Regions from separate parts of the Homo sapiens genome. Here regions 1, 2, 4, 5, 6 and 7 are each linked to region 3. Evidence: fine-mapped expression QTL. A gene starts in region 3. Each other region holds a variant in brackets. All regions are shown on one strand. Distances are from middle to middle.

What was found. PIP is the estimated chance that this variant, and not a neighbour inherited with it, causes the effect. A credible set is the group of variants that fine-mapping cannot tell apart.
Region 1: its variant is the best candidate, but not a certain one, in a credible set for the expression of SURF1 in esophagus mucosa (GTEx, PIP 0.72).
Region 2: its variant is the best candidate, but not a certain one, in a credible set for the expression of SURF1 in sun-exposed skin (GTEx, PIP 0.88).
Region 4: its variant is the best candidate, but not a certain one, in a credible set for the expression of SURF1 in whole blood (TOPMed, PIP 0.61).
Region 5: its variant is the best candidate, but not a certain one, in a credible set for the expression of SURF1 in subcutaneous fat (TwinsUK, PIP 0.88).
Region 6: its variant is the best candidate, but not a certain one, in a credible set for the expression of SURF1 in adrenal gland (GTEx, PIP 0.52).
Region 7: its variant is the best candidate, but not a certain one, in a credible set for the expression of SURF1 in left ventricle (GTEx, PIP 0.65).

What each region holds. Positions count from the first base shown.
Region 1 is chr9:133,261,896-133,265,959 of GRCh38, forward strand. It overlaps the pseudogene ABO. Among named protein-coding and RNA genes, the nearest start is that of OBP2B, 55 kb to the left of the region's middle. The variant G/A (reference allele first, on the strand shown) is at 1,576.
Region 2 is chr9:133,425,770-133,429,830 of GRCh38, forward strand. It overlaps ADAMTS13 (ADAM metallopeptidase with thrombospondin type 1 motif 13), which reads left to right. Exons shown (of 29, transcript NM_139027.6): 5 at 169-293; 6 at 430-576; 7 at 2,865-3,002. Among named protein-coding and RNA genes, the nearest start is that of ADAMTS13, 5.4 kb to the left of the region's middle. RefSeq lists a silencer at 2,964-3,033. The variant T/C (reference allele first, on the strand shown) is at 2,177.
Region 3 is chr9:133,354,780-133,358,838 of GRCh38, forward strand. SURF1 (SURF1 cytochrome c oxidase assembly factor) reads right to left here and starts at 1,708. Exons shown (of 9, transcript NM_003172.4): 1 at 1,621-1,708; 2 at 1,490-1,541; 3 at 45-178. The coding sequence starts at 1,674. SURF2 (surfeit 2) reads left to right here and starts at 1,771. Exons shown (of 6, transcript NM_017503.5): 1 at 1,771-1,891; 2 at 2,135-2,289; 3 at 2,932-3,035. The coding sequence starts at 1,814. RefSeq lists silencers at 1,510-1,629, 1,870-1,939.
Region 4 is chr9:133,387,060-133,391,123 of GRCh38, forward strand. It overlaps STKLD1 (serine/threonine kinase like domain containing 1), which reads left to right. Exons shown (of 18, transcript NM_153710.5): 5 at 388-489; 6 at 2,467-2,537; 7 at 3,622-3,737. Among named protein-coding and RNA genes, the nearest start is that of STKLD1, 13 kb to the left of the region's middle. The variant G/A (reference allele first, on the strand shown) is at 2,546.
Region 5 is chr9:133,246,993-133,251,056 of GRCh38, forward strand. It overlaps the pseudogene ABO. Among named protein-coding and RNA genes, the nearest start is that of OBP2B, 40 kb to the left of the region's middle. The variant G/A (reference allele first, on the strand shown) is at 1,935.
Region 6 is chr9:133,320,449-133,324,512 of GRCh38, forward strand. No RefSeq gene overlaps it. Among named protein-coding and RNA genes, the nearest start is that of SURF6, 14 kb to the right of the region's middle. The variant C/A (reference allele first, on the strand shown) is at 2,272.
Region 7 is chr9:133,213,939-133,218,002 of GRCh38, forward strand. It overlaps a transcript of OBP2B not described here. Among named protein-coding and RNA genes, the nearest start is that of OBP2B, 6.7 kb to the left of the region's middle. The variant A/T (reference allele first, on the strand shown) is at 1,990.

The DNA of each region.
Region 1 (4,064 bases), 93 kb before region 3:
GATGAGCCTGTTGCCCAGGTGAGGCTAAAATAAGGGAGCAAGTAAGCACACCCTCCGCCAGAGCTGGACGCAGGCAATAACTGTCCTTAGGACCCTGATAACTGTGATACTTGGGGAGCTCAGGGAGGCCCCATGGGTCTGATTGGCTGCTGTGGTCACTTCTCCCCAAACCAGGCCAGCCTCGATGGTCAAATGTGTCTTACCCAAACAAGACCAAGACAAGCATTATTAGGAAAAGGATCATAGGTCGAAGTGCGTGGCATTTTGGTTTTCCTGGAAAACAGGAGTAGAAAAATCACATCACTCACCCTCCTTCTCTCACCTGCCCCACTTTACCTGTCCCGCCTTGTAATTCAGGCATCACACCCTGCGACGGGCCTTCATCTGCCAAGATGGTCCCTCTGCCCCACAGGTGATGCTCTGAGCCCCACCTGAGCATCTCCAAACCCAGTCCAGATCTGGCCCTCCTCCCACTCAGAGAAGAGGGAGGCGGTCTGCTCCTCCCAGCTCATCAGCCCGACTGCTCCTGCAGACTCTGAGAGCCACCCCGGCTTCCCATTGACCTCCTTCCACTCAGCACCCCCTTCCCCTGGGAGACCGGAATGAACCACACTGAAATGAGCACGTCGAGGTCACTGTCGAACCCACCGAGGGAGGCCAGGACAGCCTCATGGCCAGGCTGAGCCAGGAGCCCAGACCAGTTCCTGCCAGGGAGAGGAGCCACCAACTTCCCCTAGTATCTCCCTGCTGTCTCAGAGGCTCATGTTCTGGAAACAATCATTGTCTTTAAGGTGATTTTATGTATATTAAAGTCACGTACAGTAGTTCCCTTATCCACACCTTCGCTTGCTGGAGTTTCAGTTACCCATGGTCAACCAAAGGCCAATAATAGGTGAGTACAGTACAGTAAAATATTTTGAGGACAGGCATCGTGGCTCGTGCCTATAATCCCAGGACTTTGGGAGGCTGAGCCAGCAGAATTGCTGGAAGCCAGGAGTTCTAGACCAGCCTGGGCAACATAGTGAGAACTCATTTCTATCAAGAAAAAAAAAAAAAAAACAATTAGCTGGGCATAGTGGTGCATGCCTCTGGTCCCAGGAGGCTGAGGTGGAAGGATCACTTGAGCCTAGGAGGTGAAGGCTGCAGTAAGCCATGATCACACCACTGCACTCCAGCCTGGGTAACAGAGCAAGACCCTGTCTCTTAATAATAAACAAAACTACAACAACAAAAAACCCACAAACTAAGATATATACACATTTTTTTTTAGAGAGACCACATTCACGTAACCTTTATTACAGTATATTGTTTTTGTTGTTGTTGTTGTTTTGTTGTTGTTTTTGAGATGGAGTTTTGCTCGTTGCCCAGGCTGGAGTGCAAAGGGGCACCTTCGGCTCACTACAGCCTCCGCCTCCCGGGTTCAAGCAATTCTCCTGCCTCAGCCTCCCGAGTAGCTGGGTTTACAGGCGCCCACCACTACGCCTGGCTAATTTTTTGTATTTTTAGTAGAGACAGGTTTCACCATGTTGGCCAGGCTGGTCTCGATCTCCTGACTTCAAGTGATCCACCCGCCTC[G/A]GACAGTATATTGTTATAATTGTTCTATTTTACTATTAATTATGGTTGTTAATCCCACCCGGTGCCTAATTTATAAATTAAACCCTATCATAGGTATGTGTGTACAGGAGAAAACATACTCTCTGTAGGGTTTGGTACTATCTGTGGTTTCAGACATCCACTGGGGATCTCGGAACCTATCCCCCGCAGGTAAGAGGGGACTATCGTTTTCACAAGGGCAAGCCTGAAAGGCGTCTATCTCCTGGCCCAGTTCCTATTCCTTCCCCCGAAATCAGTCCCTTTCAACTAATTCATCTGTTACTTCTTATCTTATAATGCTTGTGTGTGTTTACCTCCACCTTTCTAAGTCCTGTGACCACGGAGCGATTTATCTCGAATAGCTTCTTGAAACAGAAACGTGGGAGGCAAAACATTTGAACTTTACATGTCCTAAATTATTTTTTCCATTTTTGTAGTTGGTAGATCGTTTGGCTGTAGGGAAATCTTGGTGGAAATAATTTTCCTTCAATGTGGCAAAAATGGTTCCATTTTTTAAAACTTTGAAAATTAATTTAATTTGAGGGATAACTTACATCCAATAAAATGTGCCCACTTTAGGTATACGGTTTTGATGAGTTTCACACAATGTATGTACACATGTAATCACCCCAGTAAGGTCCCTCCTGACCCTGACAACCATGGATCTGATTCCCTGGCGTTTCCCATACACGGAATCCTCTGATACATGCTCTTTTATGTCTGGCCGCATCACACCGCATGCTGTTTTGAAGATTCACCTATATTGTCACGTGTATCAATCGTTCGTTCTTTTTCATTTCTGAGAAGCACGCCATTGTTAATCCGCCACAATTCATTTATTCTGTCTCCTATTGACAGACACTGTGGTTTTTTCACTGTTCGGGGCCACTAGCAACAAAGCTTCTGTAAACACTCATGTGCAGGTATTTGTGGACCTGTGTTTTCATTTCCCTTGAGTAAATACCAAGGAATGGAAAAGATGGGTCATATGGTAAGTGTATGTTTAACTTTGTAAGAAACTGTGTTCCAAAGTGGTGACTGAATTTTCCATTCCCGCCAGGAATGTACGAGAACCACAGTCCTTGCCAACACTTGATGGTCACTCTTTTATCCTTTAGCCATGCTAGTGGATGAGGAGTGGTATCTAAGTGTGTCCAATGACTAAGGAGGTAAATCATCTTTTCATGTATTTATTGGCCATTTGCTTGCTTCTTATGAAGCCTGTCCAGATCTTTAGCTCATTTTATTATTTATTTATTTATTTATTTACTTATATATATTTTTGGGGGGCACAGTCCCACTCCAGTTGCCCAGGCTGGAGTGTGGTGGCATGATCATGGCTCACTACAGCCTCGACTTCCTGGGCTCAGGTGATCCTCCCACCTCAGCCTTTTGAGTAGCTGAGACTATAGGCATGCACCACATCTAGCTGATTTTTTGTGGTTTTGGTAGAGATGGGGTTTCACCATGTTGCCCAGGCTGGTCTTGAACTCCTGGGCTTAAGCAATCCACCTGCCTCAGCCTCCCAATGTGCTGGGATTACAGGCATAAGCCACCTCACCTGGCCCTCTATTTTTATTTTTTTTAGACAGGATCTTACTCTGTCACCCAGGCTGGAGTGCAGTGGCACGATCACAGCTCGCTGCAACCTCGAACTCCTGAGCTTAAGTGATCTTTCCCCCTCAGCCTCCTGATTAGGTGGGACTACAGACATGCACCAACATGCCCGGCTAATTATTCTACTTTTTGTAGACACTGGGTCTCATTAAGTTGTTTCTCTTTTTATTATTGAGCAGAATTTATTTCTATATTTTGGATACAAGTCCTTTGCCAAATACAAATATTACAAATATTTTCTCGCCAGGCACAGAGAGACAGACACTGCATGTTCTCACTTATCTGTAGTATCAAAACATCGAAACAATTAAACTCATGGAGATAGAGAATAGAAGGATGGTTCGCAGAGACTTGGAAGGGTAGTGGCAGGGGTGAGAGGGTATGTAGGGATGGTTAATGTGTACAAATAAATAGAAAGAATGAATAAGACCCAGTATTTGATAGCATAACAGGGAGACTATAGTCAATAATAATTTAATTGCACATTTAAAAATAACTAAAAGAGAGGTCGGGCACAGTGGCTCATGCCTGTAATCTCAGCACTTTGGGAGGCCGAGGCAGGTGGATCACCTGAGATCAGGAGTTCAAGACCAGCCTGGCCAACATGGTGAAACCTCATCTCTACTAAAAATACAAAAACTAAGGCCAGGCGTGGTGGCTCACGCCCGTAACCCCAGCACTTTGGGAGGCCGAGGTGGGTGGATCACGAGGTCAGGCATTCGAGTCTAGCCTGACCAACACGGTGAAATCCTGCCTCTACTAAAAATACAAAAAATTAGCTGGGTGTGGTGGCGCATGCCTGTAATCCCAGCTACTTGGGAGGCTGAGGCAGGAGAATCTCCTGAACCTGGGAG
Region 2 (4,061 bases), 71 kb after region 3:
GCACTCAGCACAGGCTGCCTGACTACTTCTCTGAGCCTCAGTTGTCTCATCCCTAACACGGGCTAGTCATAGGGTTGTTAGGAGGACTAACTGGGAAACAAACCGACCGCAGTCAGCACCGTGCCTGGTTGGGGTGTCCTAAATGCAGGCTTTGCTGTGGGTCCGCAGGGTGCTCCAAATATCACAGCCAACCTCACCTCGTCCCTGCTGAGCGTCTGTGGGTGGAGCCAGACCATCAACCCTGAGGACGACACGGATCCTGGCCATGCTGACCTGGTCCTCTATATCACTAGGTAGCCGAGCTTTCTGATGGGTGCTGGCCAGCCAGCCTGGGAAGGCTGCTCCCTCAGCCTCCTGCCCTCTGCAAAGGTGACCCCAGGGCAGGCACGTGCCTTGGCACCACCCAAGTGACTGTTTTCTCTCACCGAGGTTTGACCTGGAGTTGCCTGATGGTAACCGGCAGGTGCGGGGCGTCACCCAGCTGGGCGGTGCCTGCTCCCCAACCTGGAGCTGCCTCATTACCGAGGACACTGGCTTCGACCTGGGAGTCACCATTGCCCATGAGATTGGGCACAGGTATGTAGCCCCACCAGCTGTCCCCAGGATCTGGCAAGGAGCTGACCTGGGTACCCAGGGTGGAGGTGGTCTTGGCAAGCAGTGGGTCCTTGTAGAGTTTCTCCAGAGGAGCCTGTACCCCTCACCCCGACAGACTCAGGTGTGAGGACAGGGGAACCTGATACTGTTTGATTAAAAGAACTTTTTTTCCAAAAGACGAGCAAGACACCTTTAGCAGGTAGAAAATAACTTCTGTAGAAAATTCAGGTAAAGAAAGAGCAGGCTGTAAAAATTATCTCAAATCCCACCATTTAGAGATAATGTCTCTTCACATTTTGTATTTAATTTCAGTCTTTTCTTTACATACACACACATATTTCTTATTTGCAAAATTGGGATTTAGTTTGGATCCCTGAAAAAAAGGAAAATTGTGATTATGCTGTGCATTGCTTTGTTACCTGCTATTTCTTTTTCTTTTCTTTTCTTTTTTTTTTTTGAGATGAAGTTTCGCTCTTGTTGCCCAGGCTGGAGGGCAATGACGTGATCTCAGCTCATTGCAACCTCCACCTCCTGGGTGCAAGTGATTCTCCCACCTCAGCCTCCCAAGTAGCTGGGATTACAGGCATGTGCCACCACGCCCAGCTAATTTTGTATTTTTAGTAGAGACAGGGTTTCTCCATGTTGGTCAGGCTGGTCTCGAACTCCCAACCTCAGGTGATCCACCTGCCTCGGTCTCCCACAGTGCTGGGATTACAGGCGTGAGCCACTGCATCCAGCCTTTCTTTTTTCTTCCTAGGGTAAGTGCAGGATTTACCTGTTCTTTATGTAATAATATATCCCAAACATTATCCCAGGTATCTTAGAGGTGTGCACCGTAATTTATTTAATCAGTCCCCTCTTCTTGGATGTCTAGGTTGTCTGAACACGTCTTCCTGTTGTGAATGTTATGCATTCTTGTGGGCAAACCTTCACTCTTACCTATAACCATTTACCTAGAGTGATGGGTTTCTTTTCATTTCTTTAGTTTTTTAAGTATGAAAATAATACCCAATTGTTGTAAAAATTCAAACAGTGCAGAGATTTCTAAAGTAAAAAGTGAATTTCCACATTCCTTGCCCACCAACCCCCACCCGACCCCTTTCAACCCCTCTGAGCCTGGGAGGGTTGAGGCAGGGTTCCTGGGTGTGGGACAAGGCAGGGCTCCTTCTCCCTCAGAGGGAGCATAGTTCCCTTCTGCTCCTGTGATGCAGAAGACGTGAGCCCCCAAACTGGGGCTTAGCCTGGGAGGGTTCTTGGCTTCACCGAGGAAAGAATTCAAGAGGGAGCAGGTGGTGTTAGACAGCAACTTTGATTGATGTGGCAGTGGGCAGAGTGTACAGCCCTGTGACTGTATACAGCACAGCATAGCCCCTTTTGAAGCCAGGCTACCCCATAGACACTGTGCCCAAAAGAGCAGCTCAAAGGCAGGGCTGCAGTCCTAGTTAATACCCACTTCTAATTATATGCAAATTAAGGGGCCAGATTATGCAGAAATTTCTAGAAAAAGGGCAGTAACTTCTAGGTTTTCGTCATGGAAAAGGGGCAGTAACTTCTGGGTTTTGCCATGGCAATGGCAAACTGG[T/C]ATGGCACACTGGTGGGCGTGTCTTATGGAAAGGGGCTTCCCACCCCTCCCTGTTTTAGCTAGTCCTCTGGTCCAGTGTCCAAGCGGGGCCTCCAGAGTGGAGTCCACCTCCTACCTCACCGGTGCCTGGCCTCTCCCACCCCATTAGGAGTCCTCCATCAGTTCCGCTTTGGGTAAAGCAAGCTCTGTTGTGACAGTTTGGAAACGGTTCACCTTCCTGGCCTAGGAATGCAAACAATGGCCAAGGGCAAGCACGTTTTAACTGAACTTTAAAATCGTGCTTTCCTCACAGTAGGTGAATTTCACGCTCAACACATCCATGTAAACAGTCCCCAGAGCAGCCCTTCAAGGCCCCGGCCAGTCCCCACCTCCCCACAGACTCCTAACACCATGATTTAATGTGGCTTGCACATTTTTAAAGGCTTTTGATATTTATTAGCAAAAGATGCGAGAGCCACCCTGCTGGGCTAGCGCTCCCTTCTGGGGGAAACTGAGGCAGGGCGCACGCGACCCTCTCCACTGCGCCCAGTTAGCAGATGGCGGCGTCAGGGGTCGACCCGGGTCGGAAAACTCGCTGGCGCTGCGGCACTAGGGCGCCGGGCCGCTGACTCGCCGACCCCCGTCCCGCCCCCACCCCCGCCCCCGCCCCTGCCGGCCGCCTTAGCGCAACTCCCCGCCCCCCGACCAGCTTCGGCCTGGAGCACGACGGCGCGCCCGGCAGCGGCTGCGGCCCCAGCGGACACGTGATGGCTTCGGACGGCGCCGCGCCCCGCGCCGGCCTCGCCTGGTCCCCCTGCAGCCGCCGGCAGCTGCTGAGCCTGCTCAGGTAGCGGCCGCCCCGTGGGAGGGGCGCGCGAGCCTCCAGCCAGCCCGCTGGGCCGCCAGCGCCACCTCTCTCTACGTCCGTCCCCACTCCGCATTCAGCCCTCCTTCCTGTCCCACCCCTCCGTCCAACCCACCCCTCCGTCCAACCCCGCGCCCACCGCTCCGTCCGTGGAGGGGCGGGCGCGCGAGCCTCCAGCCAGCCCGCTGGGCCGCCCGCGCCACCCCTCCCTACGTCCGTCCCCACCTCTCCCTACGTCCGTCCCCACTCCGCATTCAGCCCTCCTTCCTGTCCTACCTCTCCATCCTGACCCACTCCTCCGTCCAACCCCGCGCCCACAGCTCCGTCCCATCCCGCTGCGCCCACTCCTGCGCCCACCCCTCCGTCCCAACCCCTGCACCCACCCCCCCGTCCCACCCACCTGCCCCACCCCCTGCACCTCCCCCCGTGCTGTCCCACTCTGCGGCCACCCTTCTGTCCAACCCCTGCGCCCACCGCTCCGTTCCACCCCCTCCCTGCGCCCACCCCTGCGTCCTCCCTCGCCCCCTTGCGCCCACACTTTCGTTCCAGCCAATCTGGGCACGCACCCCTCCGTCCATCCCCATCCCGCCCCTTGACTCCACATACACTCCCTGGTTCTCTCCCACTTGCCTACACCCACCCCTGCATCCTACCCTCCTCCATCCACCCCTCCATCTCAGCCCCCTGCACCCACCCCGTTCCTGGGCCCACCCTGTTCCTGCACCCACCCCCTCACTTCACCCCCTTACCCTTCGTCTGCCTCCACCCGCCCCTACCCCTCCGTCCACTCTCCACGCTCCATCAGTCCCACACCCCTATCTCCCCCACCCGCGTACATGTATCCCTGCGTCCCCTTCCCGCCGACCGCACCGCTCCCGGGCCTAACCTGCATCTGCTCCATCCCACTCAGACCCGTCCCTCCGTCGCCGCTCCCTCTGCTGGCCACCCACCTCTGCGCCGGCAGGAGCCTTAGTCTTGGTCCCAGCCAAGAGCCGGCTCCTGGTGGGGGGCGCGGGCCGAGAACTCCTGTTCCCACTCACA
Region 3 (4,059 bases):
AGGTCAAGGGCCCAGAGTTACGCACACCAGATGCCGGTCTTTACCTGCCATGTCCCCAAGCCAAAGGCAGTCACAGGGATGAGGAGCAGGACCCACTGAAGAAAGGAGTCATCTTCCGCTTTTGTGGCAGATGCTTCTGCTGCAGAACTGCCACATCTGCTTGGCCTCCAGGCCACCCCTGGAGAGTTTCACAACACTGACATGGAGCCAGAAGCCCTCGAACACAGACCTGGAGCAGCCCGTTCCAAGACAGACTCCAGTACTGCCAATCAAAACCTGCTGCCTAGAGCCAACTAGCAGCACCTGTATCCAGCCCAGCTCCTAACCCGGTGCCCAGAACAAGGCACACACAGTACGTCTGCCAAGTGAGTAAGTGGGATCTAGGGCTCAGTGCCGGTTTGACCACCAACCACGACCCTGAGTAACTCATGCCTTTTTACTCAAGAATCTAGATGTATTCCACTGCACTAAGATGCACCATTCATCCATTCAAAATGCATTTAATAAGCAGCTACAGTTGGCCGGGCACGGTGGCTCACGCCTGTAATCCCAGCACTTTGGGAGGCCAAGGCGGGCGGATCACGAGATCAGGAGTTCGAGACCAGCCTGACCAACATGCAGAAACCCCATCTCTACAAAAAAATGCAAAAATTAGCTGAGCACGATGGTGCTTCTGTAATCCCAGCTACTCGGGAGGCTGAGGCAGGAGAATCGCTTGAACCTGGGAGGAGGTGGTTGCTGTAAGCCGAGATTGCGCCACTGCACTCCAGCCTGGGCAACAAGAGCGAAACTGTCTCAAAAAATAAAAAATAAGCAGCTACAGTTACTAAGTAGCTTAGTCAGGCACTAGTGGTTGTTGTGTTATGTAGAAAAATATATCAATTCAGTAATGGCTCACAGAGCTCTCTTAACAGCTTTCCATTTTTACAACTCATCGTAAATGTAAAGAGGGAAGAATGTACACAGAAAGTGCCTTTAAGCTCTCAGAGGATGAGTTCCATCCGCTGAAAAGCACCAGGGGCCTTGCGGATACTATTTTTTTTTTTTTTTTTATAAAAAGGCAGGCCTGGGGCAGGCTTGCACAGCACTCTACACACGGCAAAACAGCCCTGTGCTGCACACTGAGAGGAACACGTAAGCCGCGGTGGTTAGATACGCTTTACTTTCAGAGCCCTGGGCTTTCAGCCTGGGCTGGCCACCCATTAGCTGGATGGGACGTTCGGAAGTAACTCTCGAGCCTTCTCTGTAACAGGGGAACGACCAAGGAGCTACCTCTCGCGTTGTGAGGACAAAGCGCTCGCTACATGCCCGGCACACGACCACAATTCCACTGAAAGCATTTTAATACGGAACTTGTCACTCCCAGGGAGCCTCCGCTCAGCCGGCAGTTGGTTCATTTCAATCCCCACGACAACCCTTCAAAGTGCAGGGCAGACAGCAGGTGGCTCTGCCCAGGCGCCTGGATCACAGCCCGGCCTGCAGCCCTCACCTGGGCGCGGGGAGACCCTGAGGACGCTCCTCCAGGCGGCGCTGGCCGGGGCCTGCGGACACGGACGGGCGGGCTGAGCTCCGGGACCCCTCCCCGCGCCCCGCACCCCGCACCCCGCACCCGGCGCTCACCCGTCCCAGCCCCGCCGCCCGCAGCCCCAGCTGCAACGCAGCCACCGCCGCCATCGCACCCGGCCCCGCGGGCGCTTCCGGGACGCAGGAAGCATCTGCATCCGGGGCGCCGCTGAGTCCCGCCCAGAGCCCCGCCCCCGGCTCCAGGTTCTGCGAGCGGCTTCCGCCGGGCTGCTCCGCGGGCGCGTCGGCCATGAGCGAGTTGCCGGGCGACGTGCGGGCGTTTCTGCGGGAGCACCCGAGCCTGCGGCTCCAGACGGACGCCCGCAAGGTTCGCAGCGCGGGAGGGGAACGGAGTGGCGGAGAAGGGCGCAGTTGGGATGAGGGGCTGAGGGGAGGGCAGGGGAGAGGAGAGGGCAGGGGAGAGGGGAGAGGGGAGAGCAGGAGAGAGGGGAGGGCAGGGGAGAGGGCGCGGCGGGATCAGGGGAGGAGAGGGAAGGGGGCGCGGCAGGAGGGGGCACCAGGGAGCGGAGCCCTGGCCCTCCTGACGTCCTGCCCGCCCACGCGTCCGCAGGTGAGGTGCATCCTGACAGGTCACGAGCTGCCCTGCCGCCTGCCGGAGCTCCAGGTCTACACCCGCGGCAAAAAGTACCAGCGGCTGGTCCGCGCCTCCCCGGCCTTCGACTATGCAGAGTTCGAGCCGCACATCGTGCCCAGCACCAAGAACCCGTAGGTGGTCCGCGGCGGCGCGGGGAGGCCCAGGGCAATTAGGACAGCCCCTCCGCTGGACTCCGCCAGTGCTGCAGCCCCTACTCTTTCAGAGTTGGGAGCCCTGGGACCCAGGTGGGCGCCCGGGTGCTGGAATCACCTGCGGTCCCAGCGGCGAGGCCTCTTGGTGAGCTCGTTTGCTCACCTGAGGTTTGTCCTGTGGGGTGTGGCTGCTTCCCAGATGAGTAGAGGCTTGTGATTTGTCACCTGAGGTTGTGAACAGCGTTGGGTTCTTCCCTTAACCCCAGAAGGGGTCTTTGATTTAGCTGGGAGCTAGGCTTTGTAATAATCGTCAAAACAGAGATAGGATGTTTCCATTCATTGAGCCCTTGCTCCAGGTGGAGCCATCCTCTTGCATGAACTCATCCTGGAGCAGTCAGTGAGGCTGCCATGCGTGCTTTTCCGGTAAACATTAAGAGGCTGCAGTCGGCCTGGGTCAGACGGTTCCCCACCCAGCTTCAGAGTGGAATTGCTCCGGGAGCCTTTAAAAGCCCGATGTCCAAGCCGCATGGTAGACTGTCCAGGGATGAGTCCAAGACACAGCCACCAGTCTGAATCCTTGCTGTGAACTGTCCCTACAAATTTGGTCTCTCTGCTCTGTAGGCACCAGTTGTTCTGCAAACTCACCCTGCGGCACATCAACAAGTGCCCAGAACACGTGCTGAGGCACACCCAGGGCCGGCGGTACCAGCGAGCTCTGTGTAAATGTAAGTCCCAGTGGACCCCCATCAGTGCATCGCCATCTGAGTGCATGCCCGCCTTGCCCCAGATGGAGCGTGCTTGAAGGCAGGTCGTCCTTCAGCGATCCGTGTTGATGCATCAGGCCTGTTTTTTGGCACAGTGAAGAGAGGGATGATGGCCCCTGACCCCACAGCTTTTAGTGCAGGCAGGCACAGAGCCAGAAGCAGGCTCGGGAGTGAGTGAGTGTGCGTGGCAATGCGAGGTGTGAAAGAAACTGGGCGAGGGATGTGGGGTGGGCTTGCGGAGACAGGAGGGCTGGGGAGACTCGCTGAGGGATTCGCTCGAGGCTGAGGCTGGAGGGATGTGGTGGCAGTGGGGTCGGGGGAACAGCACCCCAGGGAGAAGCCAGGGTCCATGGAAGTCTGAGGCAAAAATGTGTTGGCTGAGGTAGGCTCCAAAGGACTGGCTGGGCTAGTGTGCACAGCCCGGATGACCCAGAGACCAGGCCAGGAGCACTGCAGTGGGTGTGTGGAGAGGGTTGGGTGGGGGCTGCATGGACAGTGTGCATGGTTGAGAAGGGAGGACTCCTTGACTGCGGTCATCCAGGAAAAGACGGTGGGTTTTGGGGGGAGAATTCAGAGTCCCTTTGAAGGTTTTAAGCTTGAGCTGTATTAGGAAAGGTGTGTATTAGGGAAGTATCGGGCTTTTGAAACAGGGACACCCGTGCTGGATGAAGGAGATGGTTGCACCGTGGATCTGGGTGAGCACCCGGCGAGAGTTTAGAGAAGGGAGAGAGGCCTGGTCCTGAGCCCCAGGAAGAGGCTGGAAGTCCTCCCGTGGTACTGAAGGGAAGATGAGGACAGAAAAATGATAGATTTGATAACACAGAGGCCCCTGGCAACCTTGGTGAGGCACCTGAAGCTTGGCAGGGACACCTGGCTAGAGTGGAGCGTAGGCTGCAGCCCATGAGGGCAGTGTCCGGCCTTAGGCAGGTGCTGGGTCACCAGAAAGCCTTTCTGGAGTCCAGCTAAGGAGGGAAATGGACAGAGG
Region 4 (4,064 bases), 32 kb after region 3:
TGGGGCTCTGGCCAGGGCAGGGTCCTCAGAGGAAATGGGTCTGAGCTGAGCCCTAAAGGGTGCATAGTTATCCCTATGAAGGGGGTGGGTAGTGGTCCAAGCAGAGGGGTCCATGTGTGCAGTGGCCAGGGGACAAGTGCAGCTTTTGGGAAAGTCCAAGTAGCTTGGTGTGGATGGAGTGTGGAGTGGAGGTGGAGCCTGGGAATGGGGAGAGGAGAGAGAGGAAGCTGAAGGTGGGGCAGGAGGGGCTTGTAGCCCCCTCCAGTGGGCAGTGCTCCCACGGCCACTGCAAATGGCAGCTGAGCGCAGGGAGGCCCTGGAGCAGGTGAGCCTGCAGAAGCACCGGGGCCTGGGCGTCCTTTGGCTAAGGGCCTCCTGTCCCAGCAGATCTCTTCTCTGTACCTCTGCCTGGTGATGGAGTTCAATGAGCTCAGCTTCCAGGAGGTCATTGAGGATAAGAGGAAGGCAAAGAAAATCATTGACTCTGAGGTGAGGTCCTTTGGGGCACCAGGCCTGGGGGCCACCTAGACCTGTGACACAGGCCCTGCGGTGCAGGGCAAAGTAACAGCGGGAGGGCAGGCACCATGGAGTCCAGCCTTGTTTTTTTCTTAAATGTGTGCCTCGAGGCATTGCACTCTAGGTAATGTGTGCAGATCTTAAGTGCACAGTTTGATGCACTCACACAACTTCCACCCAGATCAAGACAGAAGGCGTTCCTAACACTAGAAGGTTCCCAGTCGGTGACCATGATTCCAGATTGTTCTGCCGGTCCCTGAAGTTCCTGTAAATGGACTCGTCCGGCATGCTGCCACTCCTGTCTGGTCTCCTTCCCTCAGCCTGCTGTTGTGAGCCCCGCGGTGCTGCTGCATGCACCAGCAAATCATGTGTTCATTGCTTGCTGCCACTCTGCTGCCTGATTGCGCTGCAGGCTGTTTACCTAGTCTCATTTGGGCTGCTTCCAGTTTGGGGCTATTGTGAATAAGGCTGCTATGAGCATTGCTGGAAGACACTCACTTTTCTGGGATGAATACCTAGGAGTGGAATTATTGGGTCGTAGAGTACATGTGTGTAGCTTCAGTGGATGCTCCAAACAGATTTCCGACTTGGTTTGGTTGGCCCCATGTTTACTCTCACAAGTTGTGAGCATTCCCGATCCACATGGAGGCCAGCACTTCATTGTGTCAGTCTTGTTGTTGTTGTTGTTGTTGAGATGGAGTCTCACTCTGTCGCCCAGGCTGGAGTGCAGTGGCACGACCTTGGCTCACTGCAACCTTCGCCTCCCTGTTCAAGCGATTCTCCTGCCTCAGCCTCCCAAGTAGCTGGGACTACAGGTGCCCACCACCACACCCACTAATTTTTGTATTATTAATAGAGACAAGGTTTTGCTATGTTGCCCAGGCTGGTCTCGAACTCCTGACCTCAAGTGATCCACCCGCCTCGGCCTCCCAGAGTGCTGGGATTACAGATGTGAGCCGCCGCGCCTAGCCAGTTCACTTTCTTAATGATGTCTTTTGATGATGGAAAGTCCTAACTGTAATGGAGTTCGCTTTCCCAATGCTGACTCTTATGGTTAGTGCCTTTGGAGTTTAAGAAGCATTTCCTGCTCCAAGATCATGAAGATACTCTCCTCTGTCTTATGGAAGCTTGGTTATTTTTGCCTTCACATTTAGATCTTTCATCTACCCCAGATGAATGCTACCTGCTTTTACCCTGAGAACTGTGTTTGGGGGGACCATGTACCCCTGAGGGGCTCTTCGGGGCACACAGCTCTTCTCTTACCATGGGCCTCAGAGGCAGGCCCGGAGTGAGTTTCAGACTTTGTGAGTGAAGCCCTTCAAAACACGAAATATTCCCAGAAACCCAGTAAGTGCAGCAGACCTACTCTAACTGGGGGCAGTGGGAGGACGCCCACATCCTGCCCCCTCAGCCCCTCTCTGACACCCCAGGGTGGCCCTGAATCCAGGGGCCCTAGGAGCCCAGCTTTAGAATCACCGCGCTGGGTACTCGATGGAGCTTGTCTCTGATGCAGAACACTCCTAGCATTCTCTCTCAGGGCTCTTTTCATTTGAATGACCTAGAGGATTGAGCTCATGTAGGCACTGAAGGCTTCCACCTCTCCCATACCCGCAAGGCCGATCTGCCTTCAGCTCCCAGCAAGTGTGGGGCAGCGCGGGCCACAGAGTAGGGTGCAGGGATGGGGCCCCTGCAGCACCCAGGGTCTCTGGTATGGAGACAGCAGTGTGGAGTCTGGAAACTCAGAGTCCTTCTGGCTGCCGCCGCGGCTTTACCATCTGGAGAGCCACCACGCTGAAGCCTCCTCCACCCTGAGCGCTTGGCTGGCTTCAGGCCTGTCTCAAGATGCAAGGAGAGGATACACCACCATCCTGCTGGCTGCTCTGAGTGTCACCCCCCTGAAAGCAGCACAGGGTGCCCCTCCCATCCTGGCACCCCCTACTTCTCCCCCAGTGGATGCAGAATGTGCTGGGCCAGGTGCTGGACGCGCTGGAATACCTGCACCATTTGGACATCATCCACAGGTAAGTGG[G/A]GCCCCTGACCTCTGCGGACTGGCTGGCTGCTTCGGGAGAAAAGGCACTGAGGCCACTCGGGTGCCAGTGCCCGTGGGCAGGATCTGGGGAGAAAGGTGCACCGGGCCAGTGCAGCCAGGATAGGATGGGACCTTACAGAGCTCCTCCCGGGCTTGAAAGAGGCTCTTCCAAGTGGTCTCAAGCCATGTGCACACGCACAGCTGCATGGGGTGTGCGCTAGCCAGGCGGGCTGCTCTAGAGTTCGTGGAAAGGAAGGAGGCAAAAGCCCTGCCAAGAAGAGAGACCGGGTTGCCTGCCGTGGGGCCAGTGTGGGCTGAGTGGGCCCTGCTGAGCCTTTGACCCCCAGCGGCACAACTTTCAGGCTGGAGAATCCATGGTCTGAAGGGGCTGGGAGATGGCTCCAATTCTGAACACCAATATCTTATTTAAAGAGGAAGAGGGAAACTATGCAGCTGGGCGTGGTGGTGCACGCCTGTGGTCCTAGCAACATGGAGGCTGAGATGGGAGGATTGCTTGAAGCCAGGAGCTTGAGGCTGCAGTGAGCTATGATCGTGCCACTGCACTTCAGCCTGGGCAACCCTGACTTAAAACACACACACACACACACACACACACACACACACACACACACACACACACACACACACCACGCAGACCATACGTACAAAGGGAATGCTCACATTCCACATCCAGTGTTCATGTCACTAGACGTCGCACAATGGCCAAAAATCAATCCCCAGGCAAACGTGTAGCTGAGATATCTAAGGAGGTGAATGTGTCAATTAAGGGGCCTCTTCGGAGTGCTGGGTGTGTTCCTACTTGTGGTTGAGGATTTTTCCCCCGATTTAAAATAATTGAGTATATTTCTGTACATAGGAAACAACTGCTTAAAAAGTAGGCTGAGATGGGGCATTTTGTGGAGGAGAGGAGGATGTGGGCTGCTGCTGCAGAACCAGGTGGGGCAGGGAGCAGAGAGTCAGGCTCAGCACACACACTGGTCCCACCTGGGGTTGTGGGTGGTGGCTGCCCAGGTGGCCCCTTGGCATCCAGAGGCAAACCCACCTCTTGGTTTCAGGAATCTCAAACCCTCCAACATCATCCTCATCAGCAGTGACCACTGCAAACTGCAGGACCTGAGTTCCAATGTGCTAATGACAGACAAAGCCAAATGGAATATTCGTGCGGAGGAAGGTGGCAGGGGCTCCCCCAGGTTGTGGGAGAGGGGGTTGGCGCCTAGAATCCAGGCGGCGTTGGCCACTCTGGGTGCTGGAGTGAGGCAACATCAAACAGCTGTTTGCTCAGAAGGTCCCCACAAAGCCCTGGCCTTGTGTAAACTCCAAAGAGACCTCCTTTGGGTTGCAACTGAGCAGGCGTGCCACCACCAGGGCAGAGGCAGGGCCCCACAGACACCCAACATTTGAGAGAAACAAAGTCGTGGTTGTTTGTGGTACCCCAGAAAATGTTGCCTCTCATGGAGGGAAAAGAAAGTGTCAGAAGGAAGGATATGAAAATGCCCAG
Region 5 (4,064 bases), 110 kb before region 3:
TAACTCTGGCCCTCCAGGGCAGCTCTGGTACTTGGGAAGCCTCTAGAAAGACTTGGGCAGAGGCAGCGATGGCCTAGGCCCACTCAACCCAGAGAGCTCTGAAGACACGCCCTGCCTTCTGGGAGAACTGCCTGGTGCCTCCTCAAGCAGATCCTGGGGGGCCCTGTGTGGGGGTCAGTTCCCTGTCCTCAAGGAGCTCACTTTGACTCTGGGGCAAACCTAGTGTGGGTGGTCGGCATCAGCCATTGTCCATGTGGGGAGACTGAGGATCAGAGGGGCACATCCAGCCTGGGAAAGCCAGACCACGCGCAGCTCTTGGCATTGTCTTCACCTGCTCCGTCAGCAACACCACCCCCTGGGGGGCAGCTGGGTGACCCCCATCTCACAGCAGGGGAGACAGGGCTTCGAAAAGCCCCTGTGCAAAGCAGAGCTGGGACTTGAGGCCACCGGATTTGGTGCAGAGGAGACAGCTTGGATCCAGGGACAAGCTCTGCCAGCAGGGAGGACAGGACTGGGTGATGGGAGCTTAGTTTTGGAATAAAAAAATCTGCAAAGGAGCCTATCTGTCCAGTAAGCACCACAGAAACAGAGTTCCCAGTGGCAGCCACCATTCCTTGAGGGCCTCCCCTGTGTCTAGCACTTTCCAGAGTTTTCTCTCTGATTCCTCCACTCAGACCTAGTAGGGACAACTGCAGGGCCTGGGCTGCAATGGTGGGGCTGGGCTGCAGTGGTGGGCTGGGCTGCAGTGGTGTGTCTGGGCTGCAATGGTGGGCTGGGCTGCAGTGGTCGGGCTGAGCTACAGTGGTGGGGCTGGGGTGCAGTGGTGGGCTGAGCTGCAGTGGGTGCAGTGGTGTGTCTGGGCTGCAGTGATGGGCCTCAGCTGCAGTCGTGTGTCTGGGCTGCAGTGGTTTTTCTGGGCTGCAGTGGTGAGGCTGTGCTGCGGTGATGGGGCTGGGCTAGCGCTTCACGTGTGGGTCTCTCACGCCTGGTAAACCAAATGCCCTGCAGCAAGGAGTCCACACAGGAGCCTGCCAGGGGCGGCTGCTGATGGCTCCGGCTTCTGCACCACTTGCCCGGGGATGTGGGGGCTCCGTATACCCTAGTATTGTTACCAGAAAGGAGTCCCAGTCCAAACCCCAAGACAGGGTTCTTGGATCTCAGCTGAGTATACTTATACTGATTTCTGGATTATAGGCTCAACAACAGGTGGATTGTTTGTGAGTTTTCCAAGAAAGGGGAGGGGATTTTTCTGAACTGAGGGTCCCTCTCCTTTTTAGACCATATGGGGTAACTTCTGGACGTTGCCATGGCATTTGTAAACTGTTGTGGCACAGGTGGGAGTGTCTTTTAGCAGCTAATGTATTATAATTAGCGCATAATGAGCAGTGAGGACAACTGGAGGTTCCTTTTGTCGCCATCTTGGTTTTGGTGGGTTTTGGCTGGCTTCTTTACTGCATCCCATTTGATCAGCAGGGTCTTGGTGACTTGTATCTTGTGATACTAATCCTGCCAACCTCCTATCTTATCCTGTGACTAAGAATGCCTAACCCCCTGAGAATGCAGTGCAGAAGGTTCAGCCTCATTTTACCCAGTCCCTATTCAACATGGAGTCGCTCTAGTTCACTCGCCTCTGACAGTGATGATCTATCCTTTACTGGGGCTCAGCCTTCACCCACTGAGGGGCCCTGGATGGAAGCATGTGTTTGCTTGGTGGGGATGACAAGTCGAATTTCCCAGCCCCTGTGATCCAGAGGCTCTTCCAAGACACCGGGACTGGAGAGGAGTGGGGGGCCTAGATGGGGGTGGGCACGAGAGGCTGGTGATGGCTTCAAGAGGGGAGGGGCACACTTGCCAGGAAGAGGCTGAGTGCAGCAGAGAGCAGCGGGACTGACATTTGAGGCAAGGGTCCTGTGGAGGGAGGAGGGAAGAAGTTG[G/A]AGAGTGATGCCTGGAGGCCAAGGTGGCACCACTGGGCCCTTCCGCAGCTCCTGGGGGGAAACTGGGTTGGGCCCAGGTGAGCAGGAGGGAAGGGAGGGTTCACCCTGGGAGTGCAGGATGGGTGCTGGTTTAGGGTGAGGACCTGGGGAAGCAGGAGAGGTTAGGAGAACGACCACGCTGAAAGTGAAACCGCCTTTGCAAAAACTCTATCAATTAGAAAAATTGTAAGAGTGAGCTGAGCTAACCCGCCCCTCATCTTTCCTTTCCCTTAATGATTCCTGGGCTTTTGGGCTGAGCTAACCTTGGGAGACATTTAATTTATAGTTTAAATAACAGCAGGCCTCCCCCAAAACTCTTCTGCCTGTGTAAACCTAATGAAAAGCTATGAGGCGAGAGGGAGAAGCTAAGGTGTAGACCTCTCTAGCAAAATACACAATTTCCCCAACTGTAGATTGGTCTTTTGAGATATCTTTTCAGGTTTTTTGCAGGTCTGATACCCATGGCTCTACCTGGAACCCCCAACCTCACTCCTGTGACACCCCCCTAAGAAGCGATTTAGCCTGCAGGAGGACAGCTTTGACCCTCCATGAGTTCATGTCTGCCCCAGCCAATCAGTACCTGTTACTTGGCCACCCCTGACCCCCCAAACTGCCTTGAGAAACCCCTAGCTATGAGCCTTTGATGAGATGATTTGAGTACAAACTCTCTCTACCATGTGGTTGGCCTCATGTCTATTAAACTCTTTCTTTACTGGAATGCATGGTCTTTATTTAGAAAGGGAGCAGGAGGAACCCCTTGGGTGGTTACAGAGGGCAGGATGAAATCCCTTTGAAATGAGCAGTACAGAACTCCAAAGGAAGAGATGGGGTCTGTGTGTTTCTTCTGCCACCTGAAATAATTGAAAGGTTCAAAATCCAATGTTATAGAGTTTATTCGAACTCTAAGTTTGACGACCACCACTCAAAAAACACAGACTCTAAAGGAATGGGCTCAGTGCTCTGAGGTGGAGGGATTAGGGCTTCACTTAAATGGGAAAATACAAGGAGGTTTAGCATGATTACATTTTCCACATAAGATTGGCTTATGAGTTGCAGCAATTTGTTTGGTTATATCCTGTTCCCTTCGGGAAAAGTATATTTAACATACTGTCTTATGGAATTTGATAGGCATGGGGTCTTTTGTACCATCTGGTCTGAGTTGGGTGCAAGAAAAGAAAGAAGTTAATTCGTAACAAAAGGTCAGTAACTAAGAAAGGGAAGGGGTCTTACATCTGGTGCCATTTAGTCTTTCATAACATTTTACAAATCAAGAAAGGAAGAGCGTTAATCTATAATTGGAGAAGCAAAGTTCACAGCGACTTGCTGCTTGACTAGGGTGTCAGAATCACATTCTTTCAAGGCTCGAAGTAATTTAAAGTTCCAACAGCTTTAATCTGATGAGCTTATTGTCGACAAAAAGAGTCAAACTCTGAAAAATATTTGAAGAGATTTATTCTGAGCCGAATCTGAGTGACCAATGGCCCGAGACAGAGACCTCAGGAGGGCCTGAGAACATGTGCCCAGGGTGATCTGGGCACAGCCTAATTGTATACATTTTAGGGAGACATGAGACATCAATCAAATACATGCAAGATCCACATTGCTTCTGTCCAGAAAGGTAGGACAACTCGAAGGTGGAGCGGGGAGGTTCCAGGTTATAGGTAGATTCAAAATTTTTTTATTGGCAATTGGTTGAAAGAGTTATTATCACTAGAAAGGAGTGTCTAGGTTATGATAAGGGGTTGTGGAGACCAAAGTTTTATCATGCAAAGGAAGACTCCAGGTAGCACGCTTCAGAGAGTATAGATTGTAAATGCCACTAATCAGACTTAAGGTCTGTGTTAATGTTCATGCTGGTCAGCTTTGCTGAATTCCAAAAGGGAGGAGGACATAAATGAGGCATGTCCACTCCACCTTCTCTTCACAGCCTGAACCGGTTTTTCAGGTTAACTTTGGAGTGCCCTGGCCAAGAGGAGGGGTCCATTCCGATGGCTGGGGGAGTGGGCTTAGAATTTTATCTTTGGTTTACACTACTTTCAAGCTGCGAACATCATAAGCCACCTTCTGCCAGGTGTGGCCCTGGGGAGGGGT
Region 6 (4,064 bases), 34 kb before region 3:
GGAGGAGGCGCTCAGGAAGTTTCTTCGCTGCTCCTCCCCACTCCTTCACTCCTTTCTTGTTGCTCCTCTTTCAGGCCTGGGTGTTTGGGGAGCTTCATTCTCTCATTCCACAGATATGCCTGCAGTGCCCCGCCTGGCCTGTGCTGAGCCTGGTCCAGGTTTGTTGAATGCAGACGTGCTCAGAGAGGTCATTCCGGCTGCTGGTCACTGGGAACTCCGTTGCATCTGCCTCGGGCCCAGGTGCCCCCCTTTCACTGGAGCATCAGCGAAGAGCAGTCACCCCCCTCCCCGCCCTGGGTATGGCAGGCCCAGGCTGCAGAGCTTTCTTCGTGAAAAAGGAGCTAAACATGATCAAGATCTTGCCACGGCCCAGGCAGGAGTCTCACCACACTGCTGGTGTCATCTCATGAGACTGCACAACAAACCTTCGCAGCAGGTCCCCGAGTGTACCCTTTCACAGCTATGGACAGGACCCAAAAGTCTGAGTCGAGCGTGTGTGTCACTACCCTGTATGTGGATTCACAGCCTCTGGCTATCTTAGAAGGTCCTTCCCCCATGGCCTGGCTCTGCCCGTGAACCGTTGAATGTCTCTGCTCCCTTTGCCACTTCCGCCTTCCTGATACTGGGGAACCAGGTCATCTCTCTACTCTTTCCTGGAATCTTCTCTTTTCCAAGGATCATGGTGACTGAGAAACTGAGGAGCTGCACAGGCCCAAGACAAGCCCTCTCCCACCAGCCCACAAATGTACTGCCCATGGGCCGGGCATGGTGGCTCATGCCTATAATCCCAGCACTTTGGGAGGCCGAGGCGGGCGGATCACCTGAGGTCAGGAGTTCGAGACCAGCCTGGCCAACATGGTGAAACCCCATCTCTACTAAAAATATAAAAATTAGCCGGGTGTGGTGGTGTGCACCTGTAATAGCCACTCAGGAGGCTGAGGCAGGAGCATCGCTTGCACCTGGGAGACAGAGGTTGCAGTGAGCTGAGATCGCACCACTGCACTCCATTCTGGGTGACAGAACAAGAGTCCATTTCAAAAAAATAAAAAATGTACTGTCCATGTTTACTGATGACTTTATGTAGTTAGTGGATCCTGCCAGCACAGCCACAGTTCCTGCTGATCTCTGTCCCGCAGTTGACCACCCCGTCTGTGTTTTTGCCCCAGCCTGTATTGCTGGGCTTGAGTCTTCTGTCCTCACGACCCTCACCGGGGACTCAGACACAGCCCTTCTGCTCTGGGGACATGTCAGTCCTTGGCCTGAGCGTCCAGGCTCTGCGCGGCCCCGTTGTCCTTACAGGGACTCCGTCCCTGGGGAAACTTCCCACGTGTCAGAACCTTCCCTTCCTTTGTTTGAGAAAACAAAAAATTCTTCCTCTCTTGACCAGGAGCAGTGGCTCACGCTGGTAATCCCAGCACTTTGGGAGGCCGAGACAGGAGAATTGCTTGAGGCCAGGAGTTCAAGACCAACATAGCAAGATCCCATCTGTTTATAGATCTATATCTATGTATCATCTCTCTATATAGTACATGTAATATGTATATAATATATAATAATCATATATATAATTCTTCCTTTTTTGCGGGGGGAGGGGGTTGGAGTCTCACTCTGTCACCCAGGCTGGAGTGCAGTGGCATGATCTAGGCTCACTGCAACCTCCCCGTCCTGGTTCAAGCGATTCTCCTGTCTCAGCCTCCCAAGTAGCTGGAACTACAGGCATGTGCCACCGCATCTGGCTAATTTTTGTATCTTTTTTTTTTTTTTTTTTTTGAGATGGAGTTTCACTCTGTCGCCCAGGCTGGAGTGCAATGGTGGGATCTCAGCTCACTGCAACTTCCGCCTCCCTGGTTCAAGTGATTCTCCTGCCTCAGTCTCCCAAGCAGCAGGGATTAGGCGCCTGCCACCACACCTGGCTAATTTTTTGTATTTTCAGTAGAGATGGGGTTTCACCATGTTAGCCAGGCTGGTCTTGAACTCCTGACCTCAGGTGATCCGCCCGCCTCGGCCTCCCCAAGTGTTGGGATTACAGGCGTGAGCCACTGTGCCTGGCCAATTCTTCCTTTCTTGAATGCCCTTTTCTGCCATCCTAATTTTCCCATCGTTCAGGGTCAAGGTTGATGCTCACCTTCCCCAGTAAGCCCTCCCTGATGTCTTCCCAATTCCTGTGGGGTAAGCAGGGCAGCTCAGTGGCTGAAGGCACATGCGTCACAGCCAGGAAGCCCTGGTTTTCGCTCTGACCCCACTGCTTCTGGCTGACCCTGGAGAAGCCAT[C/A]CACGCTGAGCTGCAGAAGGGCCACTACAGCCTGTGTGCAGCCCTCACAAGGCGTATACGGGAATTACTGCAGCGATACGGGGGATTCCTCGAGGAGCTCACTGAGCATGCAGGTGTTACACCCCAGAGCGCGCTGAAATCATTCAAATGAGCCAAGCCTAAGCCTCCCTACCGCCTCGCCCACCCCCTCCCATGGAAACCACATTACGGGCTTCACCCACAGTTCTGCCCTCTCCTGCCTCCTGACCGACTCCAGCACTTCCCCGTGTGGCCCTGTGTGGCTTGGGGTACCCCTTCTCCTGGAAACTGTCGTAAACTATCCTTTCAATGGCAATTATCTCCTGATCTGGTGGCCTTACTGAACCTCAAATTTTCAATAAATACGTTGTTTTTTAAGCCAGGCTTAATAGCATGCACTTGTGGTCTCAGCTACTTGGGAGGCTGAGGTGGGAGGATCGCTTGAGGCCAGGAGTTTGTGGCCGCAGTGCAGTATAATTGCACCTGTGAAGAGCCACTGCACTCCAGCCTGGGCAACGCAGGGAGACCCTGTGTCCAAAAAATAATTATTATATTTTAAAGACAAGCAGACTATGCATGGAGTCCCGAGGGTGAACAGGTGTCGGGGGGCAGCGGGAGCGTGGAGAAAGCCGGGAGGAGGTGGGAACAGGAAACCCTCAGGGTCACACCCCAGAAGGAGAAGGCCCTAGCCTGAATGGGACTGCTGGGAAGGGGCTGAACACCAGCAGGGAGTGGAGCTGCGGAAACACACACGGAAGTGGGGCATGGGTGCTGGGTGGACACTCCACTTCCAGATAAGAGGGGATCTTGTGGATGGTGGTGGAGGCGCTCCTGGCCCTACTGGGCTCCGGCACTCAGCCTGCCCTGCCACAGAGGCAGCCCATACTAGAGGCTACTGCACGTCAGGAGAGGGGCAGGCTCAAAACCAGAAAAGTTATACTCTGGGCTCTGCCAGCCCCACCCTCCCAATCCAGGAAACCCAATTCATCCAAATATGAGTATCAATATCCACCCAAAGATACCAGAGGGAAAAAAGAAACCTAAAAGGAGCGGGTGGCCAGTGCAGTGCTCACTCCTGAATCCCAGCACTTTGGGAGGCTGAGGCGGGAGGATCGCTTAAGCCCAGGAGGTCAAGACTGCAGTGAGTTGTGACTATGTCACTGCACTCCAGCCCAGGCAACAAAGCAAGACCCTGTCTCAAAAACAAACAAACAAAAAGGGAACAGCAAGACTTCCCTGCAGATGAAGAAAACACAGAGAAAACCACTGCCACAAAGCCAAGTGAAAGTGGCAAGCCAGCGGGCAGCCCCATGATGCAGCTGGGGAAGTGGCCAGGGGAGTGGCTGCAGCGGAAATGGCCATGGGGAACTCTGCGGCCCCAGGAAGAACAGGTGGACAGGTGCTGGTGGAACTTAGGAAGGACTGGAAGCAAAGGCCACAGACACAAGTCTAGAGATGCTGTGGAAAGTGCAGCCAGGAAGAAACAGGGACGTGAAGAGGCACAACAGCAGCAGAGCAAGCAGGCAGGAGAGGCGGTGGCGGGGGAGGCAGCAGCAGGGGAAGCAGCGGTGGGGAGGCAGCAGCAGGCAGGTCCTTGGCTGGCAGGGCAGAGCCAAGACAGGACAGACTCCAAGGTAGAAGTCCAGACAACTTTGCTAAAACAAACGAATTGAGGCGGAGCATTACTGCTGAGCTTTGCCTCCTGTCAGATCAGCGGTGGCATTAGATCTTCATAGAAGTGCAAACCCTACTGTGAACTGCGCATGCGAGGGATC
Region 7 (4,064 bases), 140 kb before region 3:
GCAGAACAATATACCTCATGAATATAGATACAGAAATCCTTTACAAAATATTAGCAAATAATAATATATAAAATTAATTCTACACCATGACCAAAAGCAGTTTATTCCAGGGATGGAAACCTGGTACAATACTCAAAAATCAACCATATTAATATGTTAAGAAGAAAAATTACATGATCATATCGATCAATGCAGAAAAAGTATTTGACTAAATTCATCACGCATTCAGGAAAACAACTCTCAGAAAAGTAGGAATAGAAGAGAACCTCCTTAACTTGACAAAGAGCATCTACAAAAAACCTATGGCTAACATCATTTCTCATGGTGAAAGACTGATGTGTAACTGGCTCAAGTCCAGCTGCTCGCTGCTCAGAAGTCAAGGCATGAGAAGTGAAGTGTGGTGAAAGGAAAGCAGCATTATTCAAATGCTAGCAGTAGAGGAATGGCCAGGCCCATGCCTTTAAAAGACCATTCAAACTTTCTGGACTGAGCGAAGGGGTTTAAGGAGGAAAAGGTGTGGGAAATATGTGGGAATGGTGCAGGAGGATGTTGGTCTGCATCTTGTTCCAATGGTTATCATGAGTCATTAATCGTCTGTCCAGAGGTCTGGTTTGAGTCATCCTGATTTCAGCCGGGAAGTGGTAGGCTACCTGTAACTCCCCCTAAGAGGGAGGATTCTGCAGCTGGGTCTCTCTGCCTGGTTTGTTTCAAAATTGGCCCCTGGAATTTCTAAGTAAGCACATAATTAGATAAGCGAGCACTGCTCACAGAAGTGCCTGGTGGGAAAGGGAGAAATAAAGAGTTTCGAAGTATGTTTCAAGGCTGAAAGCAAGAAAGGAAAAAAGTTTTTAAGCACATTTTGAGGCTGGGATACTCAGTTACAAACGCTTTCTCCTTAACATCAGGGACAAGGCAAGGATGTCCACTTTCACCACTTGTATTTAACATAGTACAGAAAGTTCTAGTCAGAGCAATAAAGGTTTTTTAAAAAGGAAATTAAAGACATACAAATTGGAAAGGAAGGAAGAAAACTGTCTGCATCTGCAGATGACATGATTGTCTCTGTAGAAAATCCCAAGAAACTGAAAAACAAAACAAAAGAAAACAATACACCTCCTAGAACTATTAAGCGAGTTCAGCAAGGTTGCAGGATACAAGATAAATATACAAAGATCAATTGTGTGTCTACATACTAGTAACGGACCCTAAACTTAAAAACACAATACTACTTATAGTGGCTAAAAAAAAGAGATACCTAGGCATAAGTTTAACAACCCATATGCTGGATTTGTATGCTGAAAATAATGCAATGATTATAAAATAAATCAAAGAAGATCTAAACAAATGGAGAGATGTGCTATATCCATGGATTAGGAGACTCAACATAATAAAAGCGTCATTTCTCTCAAATAATATAAAGATTTAACACAATTTCTATCAAAATTCCAGAAGGAATTTTTGTAGACATAGACAAGATTATTCTAACATTTATATGGAAAGGCAGAGGAACTAGAATAACTAAAACTTTTTTTTTTAAGAATAAAGTGGGAGGAATCAGGCTACCCTTTCTTTCCTTTTCTTCTTCTTTCTTTTTTTTAGAGACAGAGTCTTGCTCTGTCACCCAGGCTGGAGTGCAGTAGCACAATCTCGACTCATTGCAACCTCCACCTCCCAGATTCAAGTGATTCTCCTGCCTCCGCCTCCCAAGTAGCTGGGATTACAGATGCACACCACCATACCCAGCTACAGGCTACCCTTTCAAGACTCATTGTATAGCTAGCAGATGGACAGATGCATAGATCAATGGGACAGACAATAAAGAATCCTCAAACAGACCTGCACGCATATACCCAGTTAAGTTTTTACAAAGATGCAAAAGCAATTCAATGGAAGATAGCTTTTGTAGCAAATGGGCTGGATTAACTGGACATCCACAGACAAAACCACCAAACAAAAAGAAGAACCACAACCTTGGTCTCACACCCTGCA[A/T]GAAAATTAACTCAAAATGGATCATAGACTTAAACATAAAACTTAAAACTATAAAAGCTTTAGAAAACAGAAAGAAAATCTTTGGGATATGGAGCTGGGTCAGGAGATTTTAGATGTGTCACCAAAAATATGATCCATAAAAGGAAAAATTGTTAAAATAGACTTCATCAAAATAAAAACCTTTTGCTCTGTAAGAGACCCTGTTAACAGAATAAAAAGACAAGCCAAAGACTGAAAGAAAATATTGACAAACTACATATTCAACAAAGAATTAGTTTCTATACTTTATAAAGAATTTTTCAAAACTCAACAGTTTCAAAAATAGAACGTAAACAAAAGACATGAAGGGACACTTGACTAGAGAGGATATACAGATGGCAAATAAACACATGAAAAGATGCTCAACACCATTAGTCATCAGTGAAATGCAAATAAAAGCCATGATATATCAGTACATACCTATTAAGGTGGCTGAGATAAGATCATAGTGATCACACTGAAGCCTGGTGAGGATGCATGGAAACTGGACAGTTTCTGGAAAATGGCTTGACAGGTTTAAAAAAAAAAAACCCTGCAACAAGCATAGAACCCCGCAATAGAACCCCTGGGCCTTTGTCCCAGAAAAATGAAAACTGATGTCCATGCAAAAACCTGTACATGTGTCATAGCCCAAATCTATAAACACAGACATCCTCCAACAGGTGAATAGTTAAACAGACTGTGGTACATCCATACCATAGAGCACTACTCAGAAGTAAAATGGAATAAACTATTGATAAATGCAACAATGGGATGAATCTCCAGAGAATGATGCTGCACAGGAAAAAAAAAAGCCAATCCCACAATTTTATGATTGCAATAGACGACATTCTTGCAATGAGCAGATTTCAGGAGTGGAGAACAGGTCTGTCATTGCTGGGGTTGGGGCTGGAGCAAGCCAGGTGAAGATACACATGATAGCTCTGTGTGGCTTTTTACAACTGCATGGGAATCTACAATGTCTCAGGGTTAAATGTTTAATTTAAAAACCACAATAAGCATAAATGCTTAAAAAAAAAAAACCTAGAGCCAAAGACTCAGCAACTCCACTCAGAAGCATCATTTCAACAGATACACTCCCACACATGAACCAGCAGAAGGGTTCAATTGTTACTTACAAATCTTGGAAATGCCTCAAATTTCCATCAAAATAACAATGACTGAATAAAGGTTCATTTTTATGTTTGATTTTTGCAGACTTTCTAGATGCCTCTCATTCTTTGGGGCACAAGGAATACATCGATCAATGAAACAAATGTCCTGTGCTCGGGGGGCTTATATTCTAGGTGCAGGGGACTTAAAATGAACACAATAAATAAGTGAATTGCAGTGCCAGCTATCAATGTCTTGCCTCCAGCTCCACACGTACCCTTCATGGCCGGTTCCGAGGCAATGGAGCTGGAGCCAGCAGGCGCTTCTCTTGTGCACCTGGTGCAATGCTAAGCTTTGTTGGTTGAGGCGTAGGGAGAAGCGCCTCCTAGCATGGGTCCAGGATGACTGGTTCCAGATGCTTCCATTTCTTCCTTTTTCTTTCTCTTCCTATGCAAATGGCAGTGGCACAAGTCGGGGACGTCTGGCGGCACACACCACATTGAATTCAGGGGACCGCCCCCAGATGGCTTCCTATTGAGATTCAGTGGCATCTGCACCTGTGGGTTCCCAGTGACTCTTGCAGGCTTCCCAGCCCCAGCCCACCTGCCTTGGGTGGGGAGAGAGGCTTCCTGCTTGCCAGACCCAGCCTACATTTCCCTGCCTGCTGGCCTCTGCCCTGACCGTGGGCCAGCTGTGGCTGGGACAACCCAGCAAACTTCTCCAGCTTCCCTTGGGAGAACCACACCTTCTCCCGTGAGGTCTGAACCCAGACTTGTGGAAAGGATCCCCACCCCTGTTTATTTCTTCCTTAACTGCCCTCGTGCAATCCTGAGCCATTCTTTGTGGTTCTCTTTAAACCTCTAGAGCTGATTGTTCATTGTGCAAGCAATCCCTGTTCAATCTATTGTCTCTGGATCCTGATGGGTCACTGGTTCATACGTTAT